Homo sapiens: one gene and its partners. The protein of the gene in region 4 interacts with the protein of the main gene of each other region in a biochemical or structural test. Each region holds a gene or a part of one and is shown on either strand. Other genes may lie near its edges. The genes, in order: REPS2, HIP1R, EPS15 and EPN1.

Region 1 (7,031 bases), on a different chromosome or scaffold from region 4:
GTGATCCACCCGCCTCAGCCTCCCAAAGTGCTGGGATTACAGGCGTGAGCCACCATGCCTGGCCTTAACATATTTTTTAATAGACTATTTTTTTTTTTCAGAGCAGTTTTAGGTTCACAGCAAAATTTAGCAGAGTACCCATATATCCCCTGCCCCGACACACCCGTAGCTTTCCTTACTCTCAACGTCCCACATCAGAATAATAGAGTTTTTACAATTGATGAACCTACATTGACACCTCATTATTCCCCAAAGTCTATATATTAGGGCTCACTCTTGGTGTTGTACATTCTGTGGGTTTGGACAAATGTATAATGACGGTTCCACCATTGTAGTATCATACAGAATAGTTTCACTGCTCTAAAAATCTGTGCTCTATTGATTCATCCCTCCCTCTCCACTAACATGTGGCAATCACTGATTTTTTTTTTTTTTTTACTGTCCCCATAGTTTTGCCTTTTTTAGAATGTCATATAGTTGGAGTCATACAGTATATAGGCTTTTCACTTTGGCTTCTTTCATGTAGTACTATGCACTTAAAATTCCTTCATGTCTTTTTATGGTTTGGTGGCTCATTTCTTTATAGTGCTGAATAATATTCCATTGTCTGCATGTACTACAATTTATTTATTCACCTACTGAAGGATATCTTGGTTGCTTCCAAGTTTGGGCAATTATGGATAAAGCTGTTATAAACATCTGTATGCAGCCTTTTTTGTTACATGCAGGAGATAAGCTTTTGACTCATTTGGGTAAATAGCAAGGGGCATGATTGCTAGATTGTATGGTGAGAGTATATTTAGTTTTATAAGAAACTGCCAAACTGCTTTCCAAAGTGATTGTACCATTTTGCGTTCCCATCAGCAATGCATTGGTTTCTTTACAGAGTATTTATTTTCCTTTGCTGACTTATTTTAACAGCAGGATTCTAGCACTAGGTGGAAAACGTATATGAGTTTCTGATGTGTGTCAGGTACTGTCCTAGGTGCTGAGGTTATAATAGTGAATCCAACACAATCTCTGTCTTCATGGAGCTTATGTTCTCATGTGAATGTTTTTACACTTCAGAGTTTTTATTTGGTTGAGAAAAGACTTGAAATATAACATCCAAAAATAAAATGTCAGCCTGGTGCTGTGGCGCACGCCTGTAGTCCCAGTGCTTTGGGAGACCAAGGATGGGAGGATTGCTTGAGGCCAGGACTTTGAGATCAGCCTGGGTAACATAGTGAGACCCTGTCTCTACACAAAATAAAATAGCCGGGCATGGTGGCATGCGCTTGTAGTCCTAGCTACTCTGGAGGCTGAGGCAGGAGAATTGCTTGAGCCCAGGAGTTCAAGGTTATAGTGAACTATGATCGCACCATTGCTCTCCAGCGTAGGCAACAGAGCAAAACCCTGTATCAAAATAAAGTAAAATAAGCCTGTCAAACCCAAACCAAATACATGTCAAACCCAGACCTGATTCTTACCACACACTATGCCTTCTAGTAAAATTCTGGCCTTTGAATACCAACAAAATACTTCATAACCTGGGAAACCAACTACTCTAACGTTTGTTGCTCTGTCTTGAAATACTAAACAAAACCATTTACCTGTTCGTAGACATATTTTCTTTTTCTAGTTTAAAAGTATCCCATTCTGCCATTTTCCACCTAGTGCTAGAATCCTGCTCTTAAAATAAGTCAGCACAGGGAAATAAATACTCTATAAAGAGACCAAAAGACCTTTCAAAATAGGCTATGGCCAGGCCCAGTGGCTCACGCCTATAAATCCCAGCACTTTGGGAGTCTGAGGTCGGAGGATTACTTGAGCCCAGGAGTTCTAGACTAGCCTGGGCAAGATGGCAAAACCCCATCTACACACACACACACACACACACACACACACACACACACACACACACACACACACACACACCCCCGCTACCTACCTCTCTCTGGGGCATGCCTGTAGTCCCAGCTATTCTGGAGGCTGAGGTGGGAGGATCCCTTGAGCCCAGGAGTTTGAGGCTGCAATGAGCCATTATGACACCACTGCACTCCAGCCTGGGTGAAAGAGCCAGACCCTGTCTCATAAAATAAATAAGTAAATAAATAAAATATCTACCTTAAAGCAGCAAGTTTTGTATTTGATGTAATGAATTAACAGACCGCTTTATAATATCTATCTTTTAGGATAGTGTCAGTCTCTTGGAATGCTGTGCATGAGTCATCATTAAAATTGGTTTTCATTAAAAAAATTTTTTTAACATATACACATCTTATTGGAGTTTTCTTTTAAAATTCAAAAATGGGAACATTATTTTTTCAAAGCCAAGTAACAGAAGAGTATATAAAAAAGTCAATTTTGTGCATATCTTTTTACATTTTCTATGCTCATGTAAAACATACATGACTTATGTAATTATACACATATGCTCCAGATCTCATCTGTATTAATTTTTTAAATTATACTTTAGTTCTGGGATACACTTGGAGAACGTGCAGTTTTGTTACATAGGTATATATATGTGCCATGGTGATTTGCTGCACCCATCAACCCATCATCTACATTAGGTATTTCTCCTAATGCTATCTCTCCCCTAGCCCTGCACCCCTGAATAGGCCCCGGTGTGTGATGTTTCCCTCCCTGTGTCCATGTTTTCTCATTGTTCAGCTCCCACTTATGAGTGAGAACATGCGGTGTTTGGTTTTCTGTTCCTGTGTTAGTTTGCTGAGAATGATGGTTTCCGGCTTCATCCATGTTGGTTTTCATTTTTGTGATAGTTAATTCTTGGACATTAAGGGGAATAATTATAAAACACTGTTGCTTCCATATCAAGGGAAATCACTGAATGATTAAAAAAAACCCAATAAGTGTTGTCTGATTGTTTAAACAGCTTTCATTGAGGTAAATAAGTAAAACAAAGCTGTGAGAAGTAGGGAATATTTAAACAATTTGTGCGCATGCCCTCACCTTTGGGGAGAAGTCTTTTCTGAAGGCTCTCTTCTGATTTTTTGAAGCAACTGTTTAATCATTAAAGAAAATTATAGGTAAAAGACAAATTCTTGTGAACTTTCGCTCATTGCTAGATTATTAGGCAGAACTATTTTTTAAAAATTTAAATGAAACAACTTTATATTTTTACATCTTTAGATCATATCATTTTGTAACTATACTTTAGGGAAATAGAGGCCAGCATATTAAAACAGTAACTAGGGGCTGGGCAGGGTGGCTCATTGCCTGTAATCCTAGCACTTTGGGAGGCCGAGGCGGGCAGATCAGCTGAGGTCAGGAGTTTGAAACCAGCCTGGCCAACATAGCGAAACCCCATCTCTACTAAAAATACAAAAATTAGCAGGAGAATTGCTTGAACCGGAGAGGCGAAGGTTGCAGTGAGCTGAGATCAGGCCATTGCACTCCAGCCTGGGAGACAAGAGTGAAACTCTGTCTCAAAAACAAACAAACCAAAAAACAAACACACACACACACACACACACACACACACACACACACACACACAAACACACAAACCAGTAACTAGGACTAACTATATGCTGTTTTAGATTGACAGTATTCTTTTTTTCTAAAAGAGAATGAATGCCAGCAGATGTAGGAAGTACCAGAGCTAAACCATTGCCTGGTTAAAAGGAGTACCTCTGCATAATAGTTACTTGTTGACTCTTTTGTAATAAAATATTTCAGGCATGTAAAACTAGACAGTTACCCAAGAAATAACTGTGTATCCACCACTCCGTATAAGTAAAACAGCCCAGCTAGAGTGAAAGCCTGCTATGTCCCCTTCTCTGGTCCCATTCCCCTCCCTCCCTACCCTGGAGTTACCAGAGTCCTGAATTTGGTGTGCATGATTTGAAGATTTCTTTCTACTTTTATTGTATGTATATGTGGATATATATATTTGTGTATATATAAATCACTAAAAAAGATATTATTTTGGATGTCTTTTCAACTTAAGGAATATCGTATTCTGTGTAACCTTCTGCAACTTGCTTTTCCTCTCATTGTTTTGTTTTTGGAATTCATCTTGTTGACACATGTAATTTCAGTTCATTTATGTTTCCTTTTAAAAAATCTTTACTACTTACGTTTACAATGACTCATTGTTACAGTGCGGTAGAGACCCTTATGCCAAAAGGAAGTAGGTGGCATTTTTCCTTATTTATATAGAATGTCACATGACTGGGGGACTGTTCGAAACGTGTATGAAAATTAAGAACACCTTCATAGATAGCAGAATGCACACTTATATTCTTGAGCGTGCTAGGGGATGTTTGAGCTAATTAATTGACTTTCATGGGCTTTCTTTTTTTCTCATCTTTTATTTTTTTGAGACAGGGTCTTGCTGTGTCACCCAGACTGGAATGCAGCAATCTGATCATGACTCACTGTACCCTCAACCTCCTGGGCTCAAGCAATCTTCCTGCCTCAGGCTCCCGAGTAGCTGGGAATACAGGTGTGCAGCACCAAGCCTGGCTAATTTTCTTTTTAAAAATTTGTTGTGGAGATGGTGTCTCATTATGTTGCCCAGCCTGGTCTCAAACTCTTGGGCTCAAGTGATCTCCCGCCTCAGCCTCCCAAAGTGTTGGGATTACAGGTGTGAGCCACCACACCCTGCCATTTTTCATCTTTTTAAAAATGGAACATCTCAAATAAGCAAGTAGATAGAATAATGCATTAAACCCTGCTGCACTTGCCACTCAGGCCCAACAACTGTCAATGCAAGGTTAATTCAATTCCATCTACATTTCTATCTTTGTTCCCTCTCACCTTTGTTATCCTGAAGCAAGTCGCAAACATCATATGGTTCATAGGGCTTATCTTTAAGGAAGGAACCAGGGTGGGCAGAAGGAAATGGAAACATGCAGGGGTTTAGGTTGGCCAGAAAAGGTACCTGTGGCCTATGGTCAAATGGCAAGACTGATGATGGTTCAATACTGTCAAGCCTTTGGCTGTCATGGAGATAGACGTGCTTGAGAACTGATTTAGAATAGTTGGGAAACCTGTAGGGAGATTGAAAAAGTAACCAACTGAAGACCAGGAATACAAGATGGATTTGAATATTGTTCTAGCTTCACACTCCTAAGTAGGGGCTGTCCTATTTTAAGGGTGTAGACAATTGGTTTTGAGGAAATCTTGGGTTGTTTTTGCTAATTATTTATAACTTTTTTTTTTTTTTTTTTTTTTTGAGACAGAGTCTTGCTCTGTCGCCCGGGCTGAAGTGCAGTGGCGCAAGGTCGGCTCACTGCAACCTCCGCCTCCCAGGTTCAAGCAGTTCTCCCTGCCTCAGCCTTCTGAGTAGCTGGGACTACAGGCGCCCACCACCATGCCTGGCTAATTTTTATATTTTTTAGTAGAGATGGGGTTTCGCCATGTTGACTAGGCTGGTCTTGAACTCCTGACCTCAGGTGATCTGCCCACCCTGGCCTCCCAAAGTGCTGGGATTACAGGTGTGAGCCACCGCGCCTGGCCTATTTATAACTTTAAAAAGAGGGTTTGGTTCCTTTCCAGGGTTTTTCAAACTTTCTGTTTGTTTCGTATAGGCAAGTTTCTCATGTTTTGTATTGATGGCATTCTATTATTCATACCTATCTGTTGGTGGGCAACTAATCAACCTGGGTTGCGCAGGACTGAAGGATTTCCTGGGGGCATGGAACTTCAGTCTTCAGACAGTCCTAGGCAAACTGGGATGGTCACCCCCTCTCTTGGTTGCTGCATTAGTTATCTATTGCTCTATAATGAATTACCACAAACTTAGCAGCTTAAAGCAGCACACAGTTATTATCTCCCAGTTTCTGTGGGTTCGGGAGTCTGGACATGGCTCAGTTGGGTCCTCAGCTCAGAGTTTCATAAAGCCACAATCAAGGTGTCTGGAGCTTGGAGTCCTCTGTGGAGGTCCAACACTTGGTTGCAGAATTCAGTTCCTTGTGATTTTAGAACTGAGGCTCTCAACTTCGAGGCTTCCTGCAGTTCCCTCCACATGGCCTTCTCCATAGGCAATTCACAACATGGCTCTTGGCTTCTTCAAGGCCAGCAGGAGAGTGTCTCTCTCCAGTTAGCTCAGACACCTTTGCCATAGTCCATTAGTTAGAAGCAAGTCACAGGTTTTGTCTGCTCTCAAGGGGAGGGGATTATACAAAACAACAGAGACCAGGAGGTGAGAATTTTGCGGGGGACACCTTAGGATCTTTCCACCACACTTGCTTTCCAGGATTTGTCTGAAGTAGAAAATTATTCTGTTGAGCCTTTTTGTGGCCAGAATATACATATGTTTTGCTCAGCCACTAATTTAGAATTCCTTTATCTTTTTAAGAAACATTTTCATGCGTAATTCATCCTAAGTAGAACTGGCAAATATGTAACTTCTTAGGTATTTTCAATTTTAGTCTTTAGGCAATTGTTTTTCCTCTTAACTAGTAGGAGGCAGGAAAAAAAAGTGGAAAAGCAGATGCAAATGCCCTGCCTGGCTACTCCTGCACGCAGTGCTCTAAAGCAGGCCTTCTCAGCCTGGGTTAGTTCAGGGGTCTGTGAATTTAGATGTGGAAAAGAACTACATCTTTTTTTTTTTTTTTACTAACTGCCCTTCCCCCAACTGAAATTGAGCACTTCCTTCTATTATGCATGTAAGCAAAAAACCACAGCAGTTTTTTTTTTTTTTTTTTTTTTTTTTTTTTTTTTTGAGACAGGGTCTTGCTCTGTCACCCAGGCTGGAGTGCAATCTCACAATTTTGGTTCACTGCAACCTGTGCCTCCTGGGCCCAAATGATCCTTCCATCTCAGCCTCCCAAGTAGCTGGGACTACACGTGCATGCCACCACACCCAGCTAATTTTTGTATTTTTTGTAGAAACGGGATTTTGCCATGTTGCCTAGGCAACAGGGTTCACTGCTTTCGGTCAAATGACAGCAATGCTGCTGGCAAGTCCATGGTCAGGAGTGAGATTCCCTCAGGCTGCTGTGGTCCCTCCTCCTCCAGTCTGTCCTGCAGGAAGCTCAGAGTGAATGGATGCTCAGCTGTTTCCTCTGAGACCTCAC
Region 2 (4,036 bases), on a different chromosome or scaffold from region 4:
GGGTAAAGTGGGTGCTTGTGAGGCTGCCACACACCCAGGGACTGAACACCTTTCCAGGTTTCCGGTAAGTGCAAAGGCTGTGTGTGGCCATGGCTCAAGTCCAAGCCAGCCGGGAGTCAGGGTCCCCACCTTAGCTTAGCAACTGTCAGTCAGGCATGGTCTCAGACACACTGAGGGGGTCAGCAACTGCTAGGAGCCCCAGGGAAGCTGTGGGCATTGAGGCTGGGAGTGCAAGTGGCCTCTGTGGAGGCAGCTGGCTCTTGGCCTCCTGTGTAAAAGGAGGGCCCTGAGGCCCATAAATCCCCCGAGAGAGAGATGGAAGGCGGACACACACACAGCCAGTGACAGCCCTGCTGAGCTTTTCTGCAGTCCCAAGTACTCTAGCATTAAATGCAGACATGAATAGGTCCCCGCCCCAGCACCTGGCCAGGGCCGACAAGGGAACACGTGTCCCTGGAGGAATGAAGAGCCAGGCACAGCCCCTCCCTCTGGGGCATCAGTGACAACAAACAGTCAAAGTGCATTTTATTGCCAACAGAACACTTCAGGAGGAAATGCTAACACAAAGCCAAGGCGCTGGTGCTGGCTCATTTTTGCTCCTCCTGACCTTGGCCAGTATTTGGTAGCCTTTCCAGAGCACAGGGTGAAAGGCTAAAGGGCTAGGGCTGGGGTGGGGGGAGCAGGAGGGCATGGCAGCTGCTGGCTCTGTCCTCCCAGCCTGGTCCCACCCCTCCTGCCGCTCTCCTTGGGCTCAAGGGACACACATTCGTTCAAATCTGACGGGCAAAGCCAGGGCCTAGCCCACTCTAGCCGCAGGGTCCCCTCCCTGAGGGCCCTGGTCCAGCACCTGGGTTTCTGGGCTTTTTCTGGCTGAGCTGGAGGGCCTAGGGCCAAGCCCACTCTCCGGAGGGCTGGAAACCACCCCTTCAGGTGGGCAGTGGGGCGCGGCCAGAACGGGGGAATGGAAAACAGGAAATGGGGGTGGCTGCAGATTCCAGCTGGAAATGGAAACTCACTCCAGGAGTGAAGGCAGCGCCCGGGCCGCTATGTCTCACCTCACTCCCCAGAAAGCGGCCCCTTCCAGCATCTGACCCCTCCTGGGGGGCTCCCATCACGGAGGCCCGAGGGCCAGGCCTGAGGAGTAATGGGCGACATTCCTCTAGCCCACACAGAGCCTGGTCTGCGGAGACCACGCAGCTGGAGGGCCTGGTAGAATCGGTGCCCCAGAAGGCCACAGACAGGATGCCTGACCCTCGTCCCATCAGCCGGCACGGGCTGTGTGCCTTCCATCCATCCACGACCTTCAGGAGTCCAGAAGGCAGGGAGCCCCACGCTGGCCCGGTTTCCCAGTGTGCTGACTACAAACGTAGGAAGAAGAGCTCTAGCTCGGAATATTAAAAACACTATTTTCTGAAGAGGAATATTAAAAACACTATTTTCTGAAGAGTTGAGGCTCAGGCCTACCGGGTCCTGGCTGCACCCCAAAGTTCCTTCTGCAGATAAATAAGAGACTCACATCCAGAAGCACCACCCACATGGCCCAGGACCCTGCAGGCTCAGTAAGGGCCAGGGGCCTTGAGGACATTGATCCAGACGGTGGGGCGGGAGGCTTGGGCACCAGGTGGAGGGGCAAGGCCTCTCGGTCCTGTCAGGGCAGTTGCAGAGGCCCAGGCCTGTCACCAGCCACCCTGCTGGACCCCTGGGGGGCCTAGTAGTTCACGAGTTGAGCTGGGTAGATGCCATCCTTTTTGTCAAGCTGCAGGGGTTAAAGGTGGGGGGTCAGTGGTCACAGCCAGGCACCTGGGGCCCCACCTCTCCCTTGAGCAAGCTCCTCCCTGCATGTTGTCAGTGGTCCCTGACTTCCCCAGGGACGTGCACCATGTGCCCCTCTAGGGCTGGGGACAGCACCCCCGTCCAGGAACTCCCCCATCCCAGTGCAGACGGCACCTGGTGGTCCTGTCTGGGGGCCACGCTGGGCTTCTGGGCCAGGGGTGGTTTCTTGGTGGTTACACTTCGGGGGGCAGTGCTGGGCCGGATGGCCACCTCCTCTCCAGGGCTGCCTGATGCCCCAGCCAGCACGTAGTGTTGCTTCCGCAACTCCCCCAGCCGCATGCGTTCAGCCTCCAGCGTCTTCTCCAGCTCCAGGACACGCACCTGTAGCCACACGGCCTGCTCAGCCCAGCCCAGCCTCCCCAGGGAGCTCTCTCCTGGGTCCAGGCTTCGCCCGAGGGATGAGCTCAGAGGTCACGGGGCAGCCATGGGCGCCTACCTGGGTCTCCATCTCCTGCTTCTTCAGCTTGATGAGGGACAGGCCGGAGAAATCCATGGTGTCTGTGGCCGGAGGACAAGGGGGTGAACATCTGGGCACCCACCCCCATTCAGCCTCGGGAGCCAGCAGCCCCCGTTGGCATCTGGCACTCACCTCTGTCCTCAATCTGCTCCTGGCCTGACTTGGTGGAGGCCACCACATTGGCAGCCCTCTCATTGACTGTGCGAGAACATTCCTGCAGGCGGCTCAGGTGGGGGCTGTGCTTGTTGGCCTTCACCTGAGGGGCGAGAGGTCAGGGTGGGCCCAGGTCTCCCAGCTCAGGGCAGCAGCAGGCCTGGGCTTGGCAGCCACAGCCCAGGCCAAGCTGGGCCCAGAGCCCAGTGTGCTGCTGTCGGCGTGCAAGCTCACCTTGGAGGCCGCCACCAGCTGGGCCGTGCTGGCTGCGATCTCGTGGGAGCAGACGATGAGCTCCTCATACTTGCCCGTGTGAAGCACCACCTTGTCAGCTGCCTCCCTGCGGGTCAAGGGCCAGTCAGGGCCAGGGTCTCTGACCCCACGGACGGCTGGCACCACTCCACACCCCCTCTACTCCCTGCACCCTGTTGAACCCCAAACTGCTCCAACTGGCAGGAAGCAGCCCCCTGCCCCCCCCCACCCAGGGCAACCTACACCAGCTGTGTGGCTCCCCAGCCCACAGCCTTGGAGGCCGAGATGAGGCCTTCGGTCCAGCGCGAGTTCTTGGCGTAAAATTCCTGCTGCGTGGCTGCCCCCTAGTGGCGACGGGAGAACAGGGCAGGACATGCCAGTCAAGGACACCAAAGGTGGAAAGTGGCCCTCAAGGGCCCTCTCCCCCTCACTCTGGCCATAGGGCGCATCCCTGAGGCCTCCCTGTGGTAGGGGGTGGAGGGTCTCATGCCCAGGGTGGCCTAGGCTGGGGGTCAGGCTCCTTGTGGACTGTGCCCTGCTGCCGCCGGCCCCTCACCCTGCCGCTCTCCACGATCTCCTTCTGCAGGCTAGTGGATGTCGTCACCAGGAGCCGGATAGCCTGCCGAGACCAAGACAGCAATGACTGGTGGCCCTCCAGGTGCAGACCCCCCCGGGTCACAGCCCCTCACCTTCATCAGGTCTGTGCAGGAGTTGAGGATCCTGGGGGAGAGAAGGAGAGACTTAGCTGCCGCTCTGCAGAGCAGCCCACACGACGCCATGGCGGGCCTGGCCACATCAGGGCTCAGCAGGTGGGGAGGGAGTGTCTGCTCTGAGCCAGGCCTTCCTTTCCCGTGAGCAGAACAGTTGGGGGCAGAACCTTAGGGGCCACGGGGAGCCCACCTCGGCTGGGCCTGGGGGGACAGAAGGGGGGCTCACCTCTCGTTCACCTCCAGCTTCACCCCCGAGCTGGCGTGGCGTGCCTGGTTCATCATGTCCTGCACCCAAGAACAGAGCCGTGAGCTGGCTGGGAGGAGGGGACCGTGGTCCTGGGAAAGCCAGGGCTGCCTCCTGCCCTCTCAGCTCTGACCTCACAGGCCCCTGGAAAACGCCATCTGTCCTCTGTCTGGAGGCTGAGAGCAGGAGTGGGTGCAGCCTGTACCCAGCCCAGTTGGGGCCTCCGGCCCCCAAAGCTCCACAGGAATGAGGGGAGTCCCCAGATCCCGTGCTCACCTCAATCCTCCGCACAGCATCTTCAATGGCTGCGGATGTGGCCGCCATCTCCTTGTCGACCACGGCCCCCAGCTCCTCCTGCCGCACATCTAGGCTCTTGGGTTTCAGTTC
Region 3 (7,031 bases), on a different chromosome or scaffold from region 4:
CATCCCTGGCACACAGAGGAAATTAGATAAACTGCAGCTATTATTATATTGCCAATCTGGTTTTTTGTTTTGAATGGTGAAATTACAAGCTGTAAAGCAAGGACAATATTCCTTTAGAAAACTGGGAATAAAAGTCAGTAAAACAAATGGTAGAAAAATCTCATGGGGGACAGGACAAGAGGAATGTATTCATTTTTAAATTAGAAGAGCTAATTTAGCTTTCTTGCTCTTTAGATGATAGGAGAATGAGAGGCTAGAATAAGAAGGTGAGAGGAGAAGAATTCCAGTAGCAGCAATTTTAGAAGAATTTGGCAAATGGGTCCACATTGCAAACTAAGTGCTATAGGAAAACAGAGTATCCAGCAGCCCAGGGAAACGAAAAATATTCAGTCACGAAGGTATCTGTCCAGTTTTTATTCAATGGAAAACACCAGTTCTTAGCCAAGCAGCTCTTTACTGAATACAAAAAAGAAGCAACTTTCAATAATACAAAACCTATTATCTTTAAAATAATCAATTACATTTTAAAGGAAATATTCTTAATCTAATAGTACTAGAAGACAAATTTTTTGCTTCAAATGCTTCTCAGTTAACTGGTCCTTTATAGGTTCAGTTTACCTACAGACATGAAACTGTGGTCTCAAAAACGAAGTCTCAAAATACAAATTAAAAAGCAAAACCAAAAACCTGCAAAACCATTCCTAACTATTGAAATTGGGTAATGGATGCATGGAAGCTTGTTAAAATATTTCATTACATTATTCTCCTTTGAGTATTTCTAAATATCCACAAGATGAAGATTTTTTTTTTTTTTTTTGAGACGGAGTCTCGCTCTGTCACCCAGGCTGGAGTGCAGTGGCGCGATCTCGGCTCACTGCAAGCTCCGCCTCCCGGGTTCACGCCATTCTCCTGCCTCAGCCTCCTGAGTAGCTGGGACTATAGGCACCCACCACCGCGCCTGGCTAATTTTTTGTATTTTTAGTAGAGACGAGTTTTCACCGTGTTAGCCAGGATGGTCTCGATCTCCTGACCTCGTGATCCGCCCACCTCAGCCTCCCAAAGTGCTGGGATTACAGGCGTGAGCCACCGCGCCCAGCCATGAAGATTTTTTTAAAGCCTCCAGATAAAACAGCAACTAGCTATAGGACCTTAAACATGTTAATTTTTCTAAGTCCCAGTGTCCTCATTTTTAAAATAGGGATATCAACACCTACTTTGCAAAATTGATGTGAAGATTAGAAACAATGAATGTAAAGCACACACCAGTACCTGGATCAGGCATGTGGTTATTAAACAGTGATTGCTGTAGGTATGTACATTCTCAAGAGAGCTTGACATTTAGTGAGAATTTGTACTTTGCAGAATTAACATTCCAGATGTGTCTATGAAATAACATAAACGATTTTATTTTTCTAAAATTCTTTTAATTTTCATTATTTCAATAATATACCAAACATTTCAGAAAAGTTTTATGTAAGATTGGCTTATAAATTTCCAATCATTTTTAGTATCCTCAATAGGATAAGATTTAGTCTCTTGAAAGATGAACATCACTTTTGGACTCCGTTCAGTCATTCCAGTTAATTCCAGTGGGTAATCAAACTATGAAATACCAGTCTGAACCAAAAACTAAATGAATTGGGATGAGACTGAAATTCTTATATGGTCCATTAGAAGTAATCTAAATGAGGGTTCTTTCATCACTATGTATTTCAAGAAACTTGCTTAGGACACTTATTATCCATTTAACTTAACAGTTTTTAATTCTCCCACTTACCGATGTAATACTGCTATTGTTGGCTGCACTGAAAGGGTCAGTGCTTGAAGTGGCAAAAGGATCAGTAGATTGCCTGAAGAAACAGTCTGATGCAAATGGATCTGAACCTTTGAAAGGATCACCACCAAATGGATCTAAAAAAATAAGGCACGAATATAAGAGACAAAAAAAAATTATTGCACTAAATTTCCCATCACTTGAAGGTATGATCAGTGCCTTAATTAAAAGACAGTCTGGGGCCAGGTGCAGTGGCTCACGTCTGCATTCCCACCACTTTGGGAGGCTGAGACAGGCAGATCACTTGAGGTCAGGAGTTCAAGACCAGCCTGCCCAACATGTCAAAACCTCCTCTCTACTAAAAAACACAAAAATTAGCCAGGCATGGTGGTGCGCACCTATAGTCCCAGCTACTCGGGAGGCTGAGGTGGGAGACTCACTTGAACCTGTGAGGCAGAGGCTGCAGTGAGCAAAGATCTGCCACTGCACTCCAGCCTGGGTGACAGTGAGACCCTGTCTCAAAAACAAACAAACAAAAAGACAGTTTGGGCCAGGTGCAGTGGCTCACACCTGTAATTCCAGCACTTTGGGAGGTTGAGGTAGACGGATGACTTGAGCTCAGGAGTTTAAGACCGGCCTGGCTAACACAGTGAAACCCTGTCTCTACTAAAAATACAAAAATTAGCCAGGCGTGGTGGTGCGCGCCCGTAATCCTGGCTATTCGGGAGGCTGAGGCATGAGAATAATAGCTTGAGCATGGGAGGCGGAGGTTGCAGTGAGTCAAGACCGCACTACTTGTACTCTAGCCTGGGCAACAGAGCAAGACTGTCTCAAAAAAAAAATCCAAAAAGACAGTTTGAAATACTGTAGAATCTAAGCTGAGTACTTTTTATTTCACAGACTCCTTTGCAATTTTGATAAAAGATACAGAACCTTCCACCTAATAAACTTATTTTTAAAATTAACATATAATTTCAAGGGATCCAATTTTAAGTCCCCTTATTCTACGCTACCGTAACTAAAGAAAACACAATAAAAACTTCTAAATGTATTTTTCTCTCTGAGCTCAAAGCTAACAGCCAATAGTTTAGAACAGGTTTGGGATGCAAAACTAAATGGTAAACAAGATTTGCATTATTCTAATGAAAATTCCCAGAAAAAGAATATCTCAAAAAGCCTGATGTTTTAGTAATTCTTCAAGATTCTCTGCCTCTAATCACACGTGTGGGCTATAATCTTAGGAAAACAAAATTACATTCTAAACCCTGAAGCAGTATAGATCATTATGCTCACCAAACCTTTAGTTAGTAAGGAGGAATCAGAATAAATATTTAAAGCACCAAAGTCTAAACACTAATGTCATTTTTAAAAAAGTAAAGCTATCGGGCACAGTCGCTCACACCTGTCTGTAATCGCAGCACTTTGGGAGGCTGAGGCAGGAGGACTGCTTGAGCCCAGGAGTTCGAGACCAACCTCGGCAACACAGTGAGACCCTGTCTCTACAAAAAATAAAAAAAAATCAGTCAAGTATGCTGGCATGAGCCTGTAGACCTAGGTACTCAGGAGGCTGAGGCAGGAGGATTGCTTGAGCCCAGGAAGTCAAGGCTGCAGTGAGCCATGATCACACCACTGCATTCCAGCCTGGGTGACAGAATAAGACCCTGTCTCAAAAACAAAAAACACCAAAAAAAAAAAAAAAAAAAAAAAGAAGAAGTAAAAGTAAAGCAACAATTCATTAAGCAAAATCAAAAGAATTTACTACTCTCTTTCTGAAAATGCCAGGCACATAGAGCATCTTACTGGGGCTTCAGTTTCAGACCTAAATAACATAAGCTTATTATTAAGCAGAAATGAATGAAAGCTAAGATGAAACTCAATAAGATACTGACCGATTTTTCCAAAAGGATCATCCTTGAAAGGATCACCTGTGATAAAATAAACACAAAGAAATCCAAATAACAATATTTACTGTGGTGACACCACTACTTAAAGAGTAACTTTCAAACAAAAGCAAAGCAAAGTTTATTTCAATAACTTCACTTCACAGTAGATAAAATAAGGAATGTCATTGACCTTATGAAATATACAGCCAACTATACTTACCTTGATCACAAGTTGAGGTTACGGATGGAGGGGAAGACATTACAGCAAAAATTTTACTAACAAAATCTCTACTCTCCACAAGAGTACTGGGAGGGTATTATCATCACCAGTTCAGAAATAAAGGTACTGAGCTTTACTGAAGCAAAAAAAAAAAAATTCTTACAGGATTGAAGAGTCCAGAAATAAATCCTTACCTTTATGGTCATTTGATTTTTGACAAGCGTATCAAGAACACAAAATGGAGAAAGGACAGTCTTTTCAACAAATGGTGTTAGGACAACTGGATATCCACTTGCAAAAGAATGAAGCTCGACCTCTATCTCACATCATATACAAAAATAAACTCAAAATGGATCAAAGATCTAACTGTAACAGCAAAACTATAAAACTCTTAGACAAAGACAGCATTAAATCTTTGCGACTTAGGTAATAGTTTCTTAGATGACACCAAAAGCACAAGTGACAGAAGAAAAAATAGATAACTGGACTTCACCAAAATTGAATAAACACTTTTCCAAAGAAGATACACAAATGGCTAATAAGCATCTAGAAAGATGTTCAACATTAGTCAGTAGGAAAATACAAAGCAGGCCAGGCGCAGTGGCTCACACCTGTAATCCCAGCACTTTAGAAGGCCGAGGCAGGCGGATCACCTTACATCAGGAGTTCAAGACCAGCCTGGTCAAAATGGTGAAACCCAGTCTCTACTAAAAATACAAAAATTAGGCCAGACGCGGTGGCTCACGCCTGTAATCCCAGCACTTTGGGAGGCCAACGTGGGCGGATCACGAGGTCAAGAGATGGAGACCATCCTGGCCAACATGGTGAAACCCCGCCTCTACTAAAAACACAAAAGTTAGCTGGGTGTGGTGGCAGGCACCTGCAATCCCAACTACTCAGGAGGCTGAGGCAGGAGATTAGCTTGAATCCGGGAGGCAGAAGTTGCAGTGAGCCGAGATTGTGCCACTGCACTCCAGCCTGGCGACAGAGCGAGACTCCATTTCTAAATAAATTAATTACATAAATAAATAAATACACACATACATACATACATACATACATAAAATTAGCTGGGTGTGGTGGTGGGCGCCTGTAGTCTCAGCTACTCAAGAGGCTGAGACAGGAGAATCGCTTGAACCCAGGAGGCGGAGGTTGCAGTGAGCCGAGATCGTGCCACTGCACTCCAGCCTGGGCGACAGACTGAGTTGGTAGGCTATTGAAACTGAAGCCTTGAATCCTTAGTTTATATATTAAAAAGTCTTTTTTTTGGGTAAATCTATAATATAAAAAAAAGAGTACTTACTGCCAACAAAAGGATCAGACTGGAAAAAATCCAAGTTTGTATCTGCAACTGGACCTGTCAGCGAACTTGAGTCTACATTAAATGGATCTTCCTAAAAATAATTTTAAATTAAAATTATTTTTTAGAAACCAAAGTTTTAAAAGGTAACATTTTAAAATAAAATAACACACATTCAGGTCATACACATGCTTTGAAAAATCAACTGATGGGCCAGGCACGGTGGCTCACACCTGTAATCCCAGCACTTTGGGAGGCTGACGTGGGCAGATCACAAGGTCAAGAGATAGAGACCATCCTGGCCAAAATGGTGAAACCCCGTCTCTACCAAAAACACAAAAATTAGCTGGGCATGTGCAGCTACTCAGGAGGCTGAGGCAGGAGAATTGCTTGAACCTGGGAGGTGGAGGTTGCAGTGAGCCAAGATCACACTACTGCACTCAAGGCTGGGTGACAGAGTGAGACTTGGTCTTGAAAACAAAAGGAAAATCAACTGATGGTAATGTAACAAATATCTCTCTAGTCATAAAGCACCTTTAACACATTTTTCTCTTTCCTTCACCTTAACATATTTTTCTCTTTCCTTCACCTAAAATAGTGTATAATTCATCTGAGGAAAACAGTGATAAGGACATTTTTTTAAAATATCATTTAATTTTTAGAGATTAGGTCCCTCTATGTTGCCTAGTGCCTCCAACTCAGGCTCAAGCAATCCACCTACTTCACCTCCTGAGTAGCTGGGACTACAGGCACTTGCCACCACATCCAGCTATTAAGAACATTTATTTATTTTATATGTATAAATTCAAGGGGCACAAGTGGAATTTTGTTACATGGCTATATTGCCTAAAGGTGAAGTCGGGGCTTTTGATGTATCTATCATCTGAATAATGTATATTGTACCCATTAAGTAATGTCTGATAATTCACCTCCTCCTGTCCTTCCACCCTTACAAGTCCCCAATGTAAATATAAAATCATTTTTTACCTCTTTTGAATGTCTATTATTGTCGAGTTCAGAACAAACTTTTTCAGTAACAGCTGTAGTCACCTCATTTTCATCAGTCACACCAGAAGGCAGTAGTTCAGGACTACTTCTTGCCTACAAAATATTAATGCAAGTAGATTAACAATATACTTTTTGACATGGCAGAGAAAACTGACTAAAGATAACCAAAAACTATTTAAAAATAAAAAAAGACAAGCAGAATGTATTCATCAAATAACTTCTCCTTCTATAATCTTTTTTAGGGAAATGGTGTCATCAAGCATCAAAGTCACTCATGTCAGAAACCTTCAGGTCATCTTTAATCCTCAGAATATGACTCCAAGTCTTGCTCAGTCTACCTCTTACCTCTTTTTCAAATCCTTGCCTTCTTCTCCATCCTCACTGTCACTATCAATCACTTATAGTACTATCATCTTTGGTTCCAATTACTATAGCAGTCTTCCTTCCAACTGCTTTCCTGCCTCCAATACATGTATTTCCAATCTCTTCTCCTTATTGTAGCCAAACTAATAGCTCTAAAATGTGGATGTGATCGTGACCCTTCTGGTTAAAAGTCCTTCAATGGCTTCCCATTGTCTTCTTCATTTAGACGAGTGGGTGAAAGACTTAAGAAGTAGTAGGGGCAGGCCGGATGCAGTGGCTCACACCTGTAATCCCAGCACTTTGGGAGGCCGAGGCAGGCAGATCACAAGGTCAGGAGATCGAGACCTTCCTGGCTAACACGGTGAAACCCCGTCTCTACTAAAAATGCAAAAAATTAGCCAGGTGTGGTGGCACACGCCTGTAGTCCCAGCTACTCGGGAGGCTGAGGCAGGAGAATAGCTTAAACCCGGGAGGCTGAGGCAG
Region 4 (7,779 bases):
ATCTTTTGCACCTCAGCTTTCTCTTCTGTCAAATGGGGCTCCATGCGGTCATCTAGAGAACTGACGCCCTGTAAACACCGGCAGCGCATCAGGAGGCCCTCCGTCCTGCCCATGCGCTCTTCCTTCTTCCTCATCCAGGGATATCCACTCACCCCAAGGGCTCTGCTTACACTTCCCAGGTGCACACCCAAACATCACAGTCACCTATCCCTGGGGCCTCATCAGTAAACTCAGTCTCCCTCATGATTTTATATTCTCGTCTGATTCTGTAGCTAAGGTCAACCCACAGGCCCCATGGGGGCAGAGAACATGTCTGTCTGCATGTGGCTTTTCCCAGCAAAGAAGCTGGCCCAGAAAAACCATTCAGTAAACCATGCAAGGAGGAAGTGGAGAGGGAGGGCAGGAAAGACCTCTGGAACAAGGGCAGAGGGGGCAGGAATCCACAGCAGAAACAAGGACACATGGGAAAGAAGGCTGATGAAGGGATTAAAGACAGAGGCAGGAGCAGGGAACCAACCCAGGGCGGCAGGAAGAACCGGGGAAGCCAGAAGACCAGACGTCCCAAGGATAGCGGAAGCCCAAGGCTCAGGAGAGATAAGGAACCTAACAGCCCCACTGCCTGGGTCCCTGCTGTGTGCCAGGTGCTCGCTCAGCACAAGAGGGACATTACCTTTTTCAACACTGCATGCAAAGACTGGGCTCCTGGAAGTTAAATAATTCAACCAAGGTCACACACCAGGAATGGCAGGGCAGACTCAACCCGAGGCCCACCTGAACTCCAAAACTCATACTTTTAAATTAACCTAAATTAAATTAACCCATCCCGAGACTGGTGACGAGAAACAAGAGAGTCAAGCAAATGATGATGACACCAGCAGACACTCGCACTGCTCTTATCCCATGCCAGGCACTGTTTTAAGTGCTTTACATGTATTAACTCAGTTAATCCTTGAAACAACCCCATGATTCATAGCCACCTCACAGGGTGGAAACTGAGACACAGAGGTTCAGCCCCTTGCCCAGGGACACACACCTTACTCCTGGAGCAGCCTGGTTCCAGAGCCAGCTCTGATCACCCATCTATGCGGCTCCAAGAAGCCACAGAGGGAGATTTTCAAAGCCCCGCCATGATGTAAGCCCAGGGGAGATAGGGATGACGGAGAGAGGCTGGCCTCTGCTTCCACCTCAGGCCAGAAAGCCAGGCACCTGAAGACAGATGTAGCTAGTTAAAAAGTAACTCTCTGGAGTCCCAAAACAGCCCCAGCCTAATACATTAAGATGAAGAGATGATGTAACAAATGCAGAGAAGGGGACTGAGAAGAAATAGAAGACAGTTCTGACAGAAAGAGACACATAGAAACCTGGGCAGAGGGAGCTAGGCAGAGACACAATGAGAAAAACACAGGCAGCAGCAGATACAAGAACATGGGAAGACAGGGAGGCAGGAGGCCAAGGAAGAAAGAGGCCCAGAAACAAAAAGAGACCTGGCGCTGAGAAATAAGAGATAAGAAAAATGGAATCTAATGGCAAAGAATATAAAATGTGGGTTCAAATCCTGGCCACATCAGCTACCTGCAGCGCACACCTCCTTGAGACACAGTTTGCTCAACTCTGAAATGAAAGAATTCCTACCTGGTAGGCCTGTTGATTAAATAAGATGGGTACATGCAGTGCTTGGCTCTGTGCCCCACAGATAGTAGGCGCTCAATAACACTGGCTGCTATTATTATCAGAGAAAAAACAGAGAACATTTCCAAAAGGGTGGCGGCAGAAAAGGCACTATCTTAATACTCTGTACTTATTTGGCGTGCATTAGAAAAAATTACCCAACTAGCACATCAAAGCTGAGATTTCTCAGATACTGCTTAGAATGAGACTGTATTTCAAATTAAATTGATTCAAAGAGAATTCTTACATTAAAAAGAATACAAAGGATATGGCAAAGTTCTCCAAGGAGTACTCCAATAACCGACCGATATCTAACACTTACTGTGTAAAAATCTCTAAGCACTGTAATAATAAAAACCAGAGCTCCCAGTAATTACACACTTGCTATGTGTCAGATACCGTCAGGCACTTTACAAGCATCACCTCAACTTACATGCACAAGGACCCTATGATGTAGGAACTACGAATGCCTACGAACTATGGATTTCCTACGACTAGGAAACTGAGGTTTTGACACAGAGACTATCACCTGGCAATTACACAGCTTAGCAGGCAGCCGGGCTTCTGAATCCAAGGCTGGGGCTCTTCACCATCACACCAGAGACTCAGAAAACTGGGGAAAAGGGGCAGATTCTAGATCAAGTTAACAGACTCCTGGAAAGAAACTTCAGGATTGGAGGTGATAGGTATGGGGGCAAAACTCAGATGCGAAGACGGGGCGGGGGTAAGATTTGCACCATAGGCAGAAAAGCCCGCAGGGAAGGGCTAGAGACACCTAGGGAAAAGAAGACTCGGAAACTCAACGAGACACGAACAAATCCTGACAGACACAGACACGACAGACAGAGGAGAGAGAGACCCGGGACAGACACACAAACACACTCCTATCTCCAAACCCTTTTCTAAGTTCACTGAAACAGGCACAGGCAGAGGCCCACAGGAAACAGACGCTGACAGACACACAGACACGAGAGAGACAGACACAGACAACCGACACGGGGGCAGTCAAGGCCGACACAGGAGCAGAGACACAAAGGCCGCCAGAGACACCCAGAACTGGCCAGACGCGAGCCCGCGCGCGCCGCGGCCCAGGCCCGAACACCCGGAGCAGGCGGGCCAGCGTCCCCCGCGCTCCGCCCCGCGCTCACCTCGGCCCCCTCACGCCGGGCTCTGGGGGGTCATGGCGGTCAGCCCCCTGCCCCGCTCGGCCTCGGTGTCGCGGGACGTGCGCCGGGCCACGGGCGCACGCACGAACGCAAGGAGGGCCGCACGCCGACGGCTCCGCCGCCCCGCCGCCCAGAAGGGGCGCGGAGAGCCGGGCGGGGGAGGGGAGCCGCCGAGGAGACGGGAAGCAACAGAAGGAGGCGACGGACCGGAAGCGGAAATTGCCGCGCTCCCCGCCCTCCCGTGCCGCACCCCGCCCTGGCAGGAGTCGCTTCCGCAGCCAAGCCAACCTGGAAGGCATCACTTCCGGCGCGCTGGGCCCCGTTGCTAGGCGCCTCTACGTCACTTCCGCCCGCTGCAGCGGGGGATCCGCGCGGTGCTCACGGAACGCCGAGAGTCAGCTCCAGCTCGCTTGGCGGCAACCGCGGAGCTCCTGGCACACCCACGCCACGCCCGCCCCGGCCCGCTCGGCCACCATCCCTCCTGTCGGCGGGGTGGGAGAGCACTCGGGAACCTCACGTCCCCCGGGGCTGTGCCTGTGCCGACCCCGAGAAGGGCACCGCGCAAGCAGGGAAGGCCTCGAGGCTGCCGGCGCCGGCAGCAGGGGCGTCCCAGCCAGGGGCCCGCAGTTTGCCAAGGGAACCCCCACCCGAGCCCAGAACCGAGGAAGAGGGTCGGACATACTGGACACACAGCCGCTCCATAAAGTAAAATACAACAAAATGTTTAATGAGCAAATTCGTCTTAGCAAATATGAAACTGCCACAGAGAGTAGGAGAGGGGCAGGGGCCACGGGGCTGGGCGCAGGTCGGGGGAGACTAAAGAGGAAAAATCAACTACGTAAGAAACCCAGGAGGGGACCAGAGAGGACCAGAGGCCGAAGGAACAGAGCTGTGGTCCTGGTAAGGGAGAGGGCAGGGCACTGAGGGCCGGACAACAAAATTCAAAATAGTTTGGCCATAAAATATAAACACGCTATGTTCCTACCGTGGGGAAGGGGAGAAGAAAGGGGTCTATGGGAGAAGGAGAGGCTGTTTTGGGAGGGGCTGGGGTCCTACCCCGCCCTGCTGTGCACCCTGTCCCCATCCCAACCCCTTCCCTCTGTGTCTGTGTGGGTGCGTGTTGTCTGTGTGGGCTGTGTGCGCACTTCCCCAGTCCCCTCCCTGCCCTAACCCCCCAACCCCCCAACCCCCGCCCCCCACCCTTAATTGCTGCCATTCCAGTTGCTGCCGGCTGTCGTGTGTCTGCGGCTGTCACTCCTCTGCCCATCGTCTTCAGAGGGGGATAAGGGGGGGGCGGGAGTGGGGAGAAGCCCCCAGCCAGCCCTGCCCCCACCCTCCCCCAGCCGCCTCTACCAGAAGTCCCGGCGGTGATAAGAGTCGGGGTCACAGTATTTTGTGACAACCACTCTGTTGGCGAACTTGCGGCCCGTCAGGCCCTGCATGGCTTTCTGGCAGTCAAACACAGAGGTGAACTCCACAAAGATCTGTGGGGAAAGGAGAGGCAGGTTTGTGAACAAGGCTCACGCCCAACAGCCAGTCAGCGTCCACCCAACCCCAGCACTGAAGGCAGGAAGGGACAGGGAGGAGGGGGCTTCGCCACAGGTGTCAGAAAGGGACCCTTAGTAAGCAGGTTTGGTGGAGTTCACCCAAATATTCTCCAGGATCAAAAAACAAGAGCATAAACACACCATAGGCATGGAGAGGGAGAAAGAATAGAGACATGCCAGAAACTCAGCAGAGCCATAGAGCGCAGGCGGGAGGCCTAGACGAGCTCACCGCGGGGGAGGGGTCCCTCGTGCTGAGTGTCTACTCCACACGAGCCACCATGGTGGGCGCTCCCAGAACCACCCCAACAGCCATGTTCTCCCAACAATAAGTGAACTAAGGGAAGCTCAGAAATTAGGATTCAAACCCAGGTTGAATAAAATTTAAAAACTTGAACCTTGATCTATTCGAGCTTCTAACCTTGCTTAAACCAATTTACAGGAAAATGGAGGGAGGGAAGGATACAATGAGCCTACACGAACACTGAAAATTCTATATAGCAGATGAACTTATTTCTTCTACAAATAAAAGAGCTTGCAAAAAAAAAAAAGAGGGAGTGAGGTACAAAGGATAAATTACACAAACTTTGTAACCAAATTCAAGGCAGGGACCTGATATGGATCCTTACTGAAACAAACTATAAAAAATATCCTCGGCTGGGCACAGTGGCTCACGCCTGTAATCCCAGTACTTTGGGAGGCTGAGGCAGATGGATCACCTGAGGTCAGGAGTTCAAGACCAGCATGGCCAACATAGCGAAACCCCATCTCTACCAAAAATACAAAAATTAGCCAGACATGATGGCGGGTGCCTGTCCCAGCTACTCTTCTTTAACTCGGGAGGTGAAGGATGCAGTGAGCCGAGATTGCGCCACTGCACTCCAGCCTGGGTGACAGAGTGAGGCTCCGTCTCAAAAAAAAAAAAATTATTGGCCGGGCGCGGTGGCTCACGCCTGTAATCCCAGTACTTTGGGAGGCCAAGACGGGCGGCTCACAAAGTCAGGAGATCGAGACCATCCTGGCTAACACGGTGAAACCCTGTCTCTATTAAAAATACAAAAAAAATTAACCAGGTGTGGTGGCGGGCACACTGCACTCCAGCCTGGGCAACAGCGAGACTCTGTCTCAAAAAAAAAAAAAAAAATTCTTGAGATAGAAAAATTTGAACATGGAATAGGCACTAAGGAATTTCGCTAATCTAATCATGCTATTGTGGTTTTGTTAAAAAAACAAAACAATTTTTTAAGGTTATCTGGTTAGAGCAGTGGTTGTCAACTGGAGGAGGGGGGGTGTCCCCAGGGAACACTGAGCAATCTTTGGAGATGCTTTTGGGTGTCTCAGCAGGGAGTAGTGCTCTTGCATCCGGTGGGTGGAGGCTGGGGATACATCTCAATATCCTACAACGCACAGCAAAGGCCCCCACAGAGAAGTTATCTGACCCAAAATGTTAATTGAGAAATAATAGAAATATACTTAAGGATCTCAGGTGAAATAAACCTGATAAGCCTTAAAATAATCCAGCAAAGAAAAAGGAGGGGGGAGAAATAAGCTGAATATGAAAATTAAGAATGACAAAATATTGGTAACTTGAAGCCAGATGAAGGAACACCAAAATATTAGCACATATACTATGATAAAAACGTATCACTATCATAGTCCCTACTTTTAAGTATATTTGAAAAGACATGTAACAAAAAATTTAAGAATAAAACAATACAATGCAGTAATTTTTTTTTTTTTTTTCTGAGACCATGTCTTGCTCTGTCACCCAGGCTGGAGTGCAGTGGCGTAATCTTGGCTCACTGCAACCTCCGCCTCCCGGGTTCAAGTAATTCTCCTGCCTCAGACTCCTGAGTAGCTGGGATTACAGGCACGCACCGCCACCATGCCTGGCTAATTTTTGTATTTTTTAGTAGAGATGGGGTTTCACCACATTGGCCAGGCTGGTCTCCAACTCCTGACCTCATGATCCGCCCGTCTCGGCCTCCCAAAGTGCTGGGATTACAGGCGTGAGCCACCTCGCCGGGCCGCCGATGCAATAAATTTAATATGCAAAACAGGTCAGCTGATCCCAAAGGCCAGGGTCTCTCCATTCCTTCTTCCCACAAATGTTTCCTCAGCCCCTGCTTGAGCCAAGCTCCATCCCAGCACCAGAGGGCAGCCCTGAGCAGCCCTGACATACCAGCTCAAGGGAAGGGGACTCTGGAGGGCAGTGGGCAGGAGCTGCAGTGAGAGGAGATGCCGTTGGCCTTCCCCATGCCCCTTTTCTAAGATGCTCCTTCCACCTCTCCAGCCGCCCTCCCCAACCCTGCTCTCCCTGGGCAAACCACTCCGACATCCCAAGCAGGGCCTCGACAGACACCTGAGTGTCCATCAGCCCTCATGCTGGGAACACAGACCTGTCCAGCTAATTTTTCCTTGACATCTCTACTGGGTGTCTCAGAAACCGCAAAGCCAGCTAGCTGCCCCCCACCCCCCGCTCACCCCCGACAAGGTGCTCATCACCCCTGCATCTCACCTGCCATCCCCACCATCAGAGCTGCCACTAAGCAGCTCATAGGCCTTCTCCTCCCCTCCCCACAAACCCACACCCATCACCAAAGTCTGGACACTTCCCAGGCACAAGTCTCCCTCAAATCCATCAACTTCTCTCCATCCCCTGCTACTACTTTAAATCAGATCACCATCTTTCACCAGATTATTGCGGGAGACCTCATTCATTTTCCCAACTGCAGCCACAATCACCTCAAAAATGCCACCACCACAGTCCTGTTTTCTCCTTCAAAAGGCCACCAACTCCAGGGGAAAGCCGAGCTGCTTCCATGACATAAGAAGGCCCCCACGCCCGATCTGGCCCTGCAGAGCCAGCCTTGGTCCTGACAAACCTGGCTGTGGCATCGCTTTGGCAAGACCAACCCTGCCAGCTCCCGGCAAGCCCTCCTGTCCACAGCACCCTCTCTGCCCTCCTGCTGATCCACATCCTGCCCTGCAGGGCTCAGCAGGGAAGCCAGGGCCAGGGGAAGTACCTGCTGTGCCTCCGCACCCACCCCCAACCTCACTATGTGGGGTCATTTCCATCTGCCAGGCGTGACCACCCTGGAGGCCTCTCAGTATTGCTTCCCTCCCATCTGGCTCAAAATAAGCGGTCGTTCCAAGACCCAGGCAGCCCTCCAAGGCCTGCCACTCAGCCCTGGCCCCACCACCTCGCTCACTCACCTGCTCACTGCCACCTCTTGACCTTGACCACCCTGAACGAACAGTACACCCAGGAATGCGGCCCCTGCCCCGACTCAATACGGCATGCAGGTCCTCTAACAGCTGCACGGACAGCAGGGTGCAGGGACAGCAGGGTGCACGGGACAGCAGGGTGCACGGACAGCAGGGTGCACGGACAGCAGGGT

The links.
Region 1: the proteins of EPN1 (region 4) and REPS2 form a complex in vitro, tested with the Homo sapiens proteins (3 studies listed by BioGRID and IntAct, with this or other methods).
Region 2: the proteins of EPN1 (region 4) and HIP1R form a complex in vitro, tested with the Homo sapiens proteins (one study listed by BioGRID).
Region 3: the proteins of EPN1 (region 4) and EPS15 form a complex in vitro, tested with the Homo sapiens proteins (4 studies listed by BioGRID and IntAct, with this or other methods).

What each region holds. Positions count from the first base shown.
Region 1 is NC_000023.11:16,949,644-16,956,674, forward strand, and holds part of REPS2 (ralBP1-associated Eps domain-containing protein 2), read left to right. Parts: intron 1-7,031. UniProt on the Homo sapiens protein: Involved in ligand-dependent receptor mediated endocytosis of the EGF and insulin receptors as part of the Ral signaling pathway. By controlling growth factor receptors endocytosis may regulate cell survival.
Region 2 is NC_000012.12:122,859,426-122,863,461, reverse strand, and holds the end of HIP1R (huntingtin-interacting protein 1-related protein), read right to left. Parts: coding exon 3,926-4,036; intron 3,691-3,925; coding exon 3,632-3,690; intron 3,416-3,631; coding exon 3,385-3,415; intron 3,315-3,384; coding exon 3,252-3,314; intron 3,040-3,251; coding exon 2,939-3,039; intron 2,784-2,938; coding exon 2,678-2,783; intron 2,547-2,677; coding exon 2,423-2,546; intron 2,332-2,422; coding exon 2,270-2,331; intron 2,155-2,269; coding exon 1,948-2,154; intron 1,757-1,947; coding exon 1,709-1,756; 3' UTR 501-1,708; downstream 1-500. UniProt on the Homo sapiens protein: Component of clathrin-coated pits and vesicles, that may link the endocytic machinery to the actin cytoskeleton. Binds 3-phosphoinositides (via ENTH domain).
Region 3 is NC_000001.11:51,397,255-51,404,285, forward strand, and holds part of EPS15 (epidermal growth factor receptor substrate 15), read right to left. Parts: intron 6,279-7,031; coding exon 6,165-6,278; intron 5,272-6,164; coding exon 5,181-5,271; intron 3,700-5,180; coding exon 3,664-3,699; intron 1,912-3,663; coding exon 1,778-1,911; intron 1-1,777. UniProt on the Homo sapiens protein: Involved in cell growth regulation. May be involved in the regulation of mitogenic signals and control of cell proliferation. Involved in the internalization of ligand-inducible receptors of the receptor tyrosine kinase (RTK) type, in particular EGFR.
Region 4 is NC_000019.10:55,670,473-55,678,251, reverse strand, and holds the start of EPN1 (epsin-1), read right to left. Parts: upstream 3,027-7,779; 5' UTR 2,817-3,026; intron 1,624-2,816; exon of another isoform or gene 1,081-1,623; coding exon of another isoform or gene 1,034-1,080; intron 703-1,033; coding exon of another isoform or gene 518-702; intron 1-517. Other genes in the region: U2AF2 (splicing factor U2AF 65 kDa subunit), read right to left, coding at 4,184-4,318. UniProt on the Homo sapiens protein: Binds to membranes enriched in phosphatidylinositol 4,5-bisphosphate (PtdIns(4,5)P2). Modifies membrane curvature and facilitates the formation of clathrin-coated invaginations. Regulates receptor-mediated endocytosis.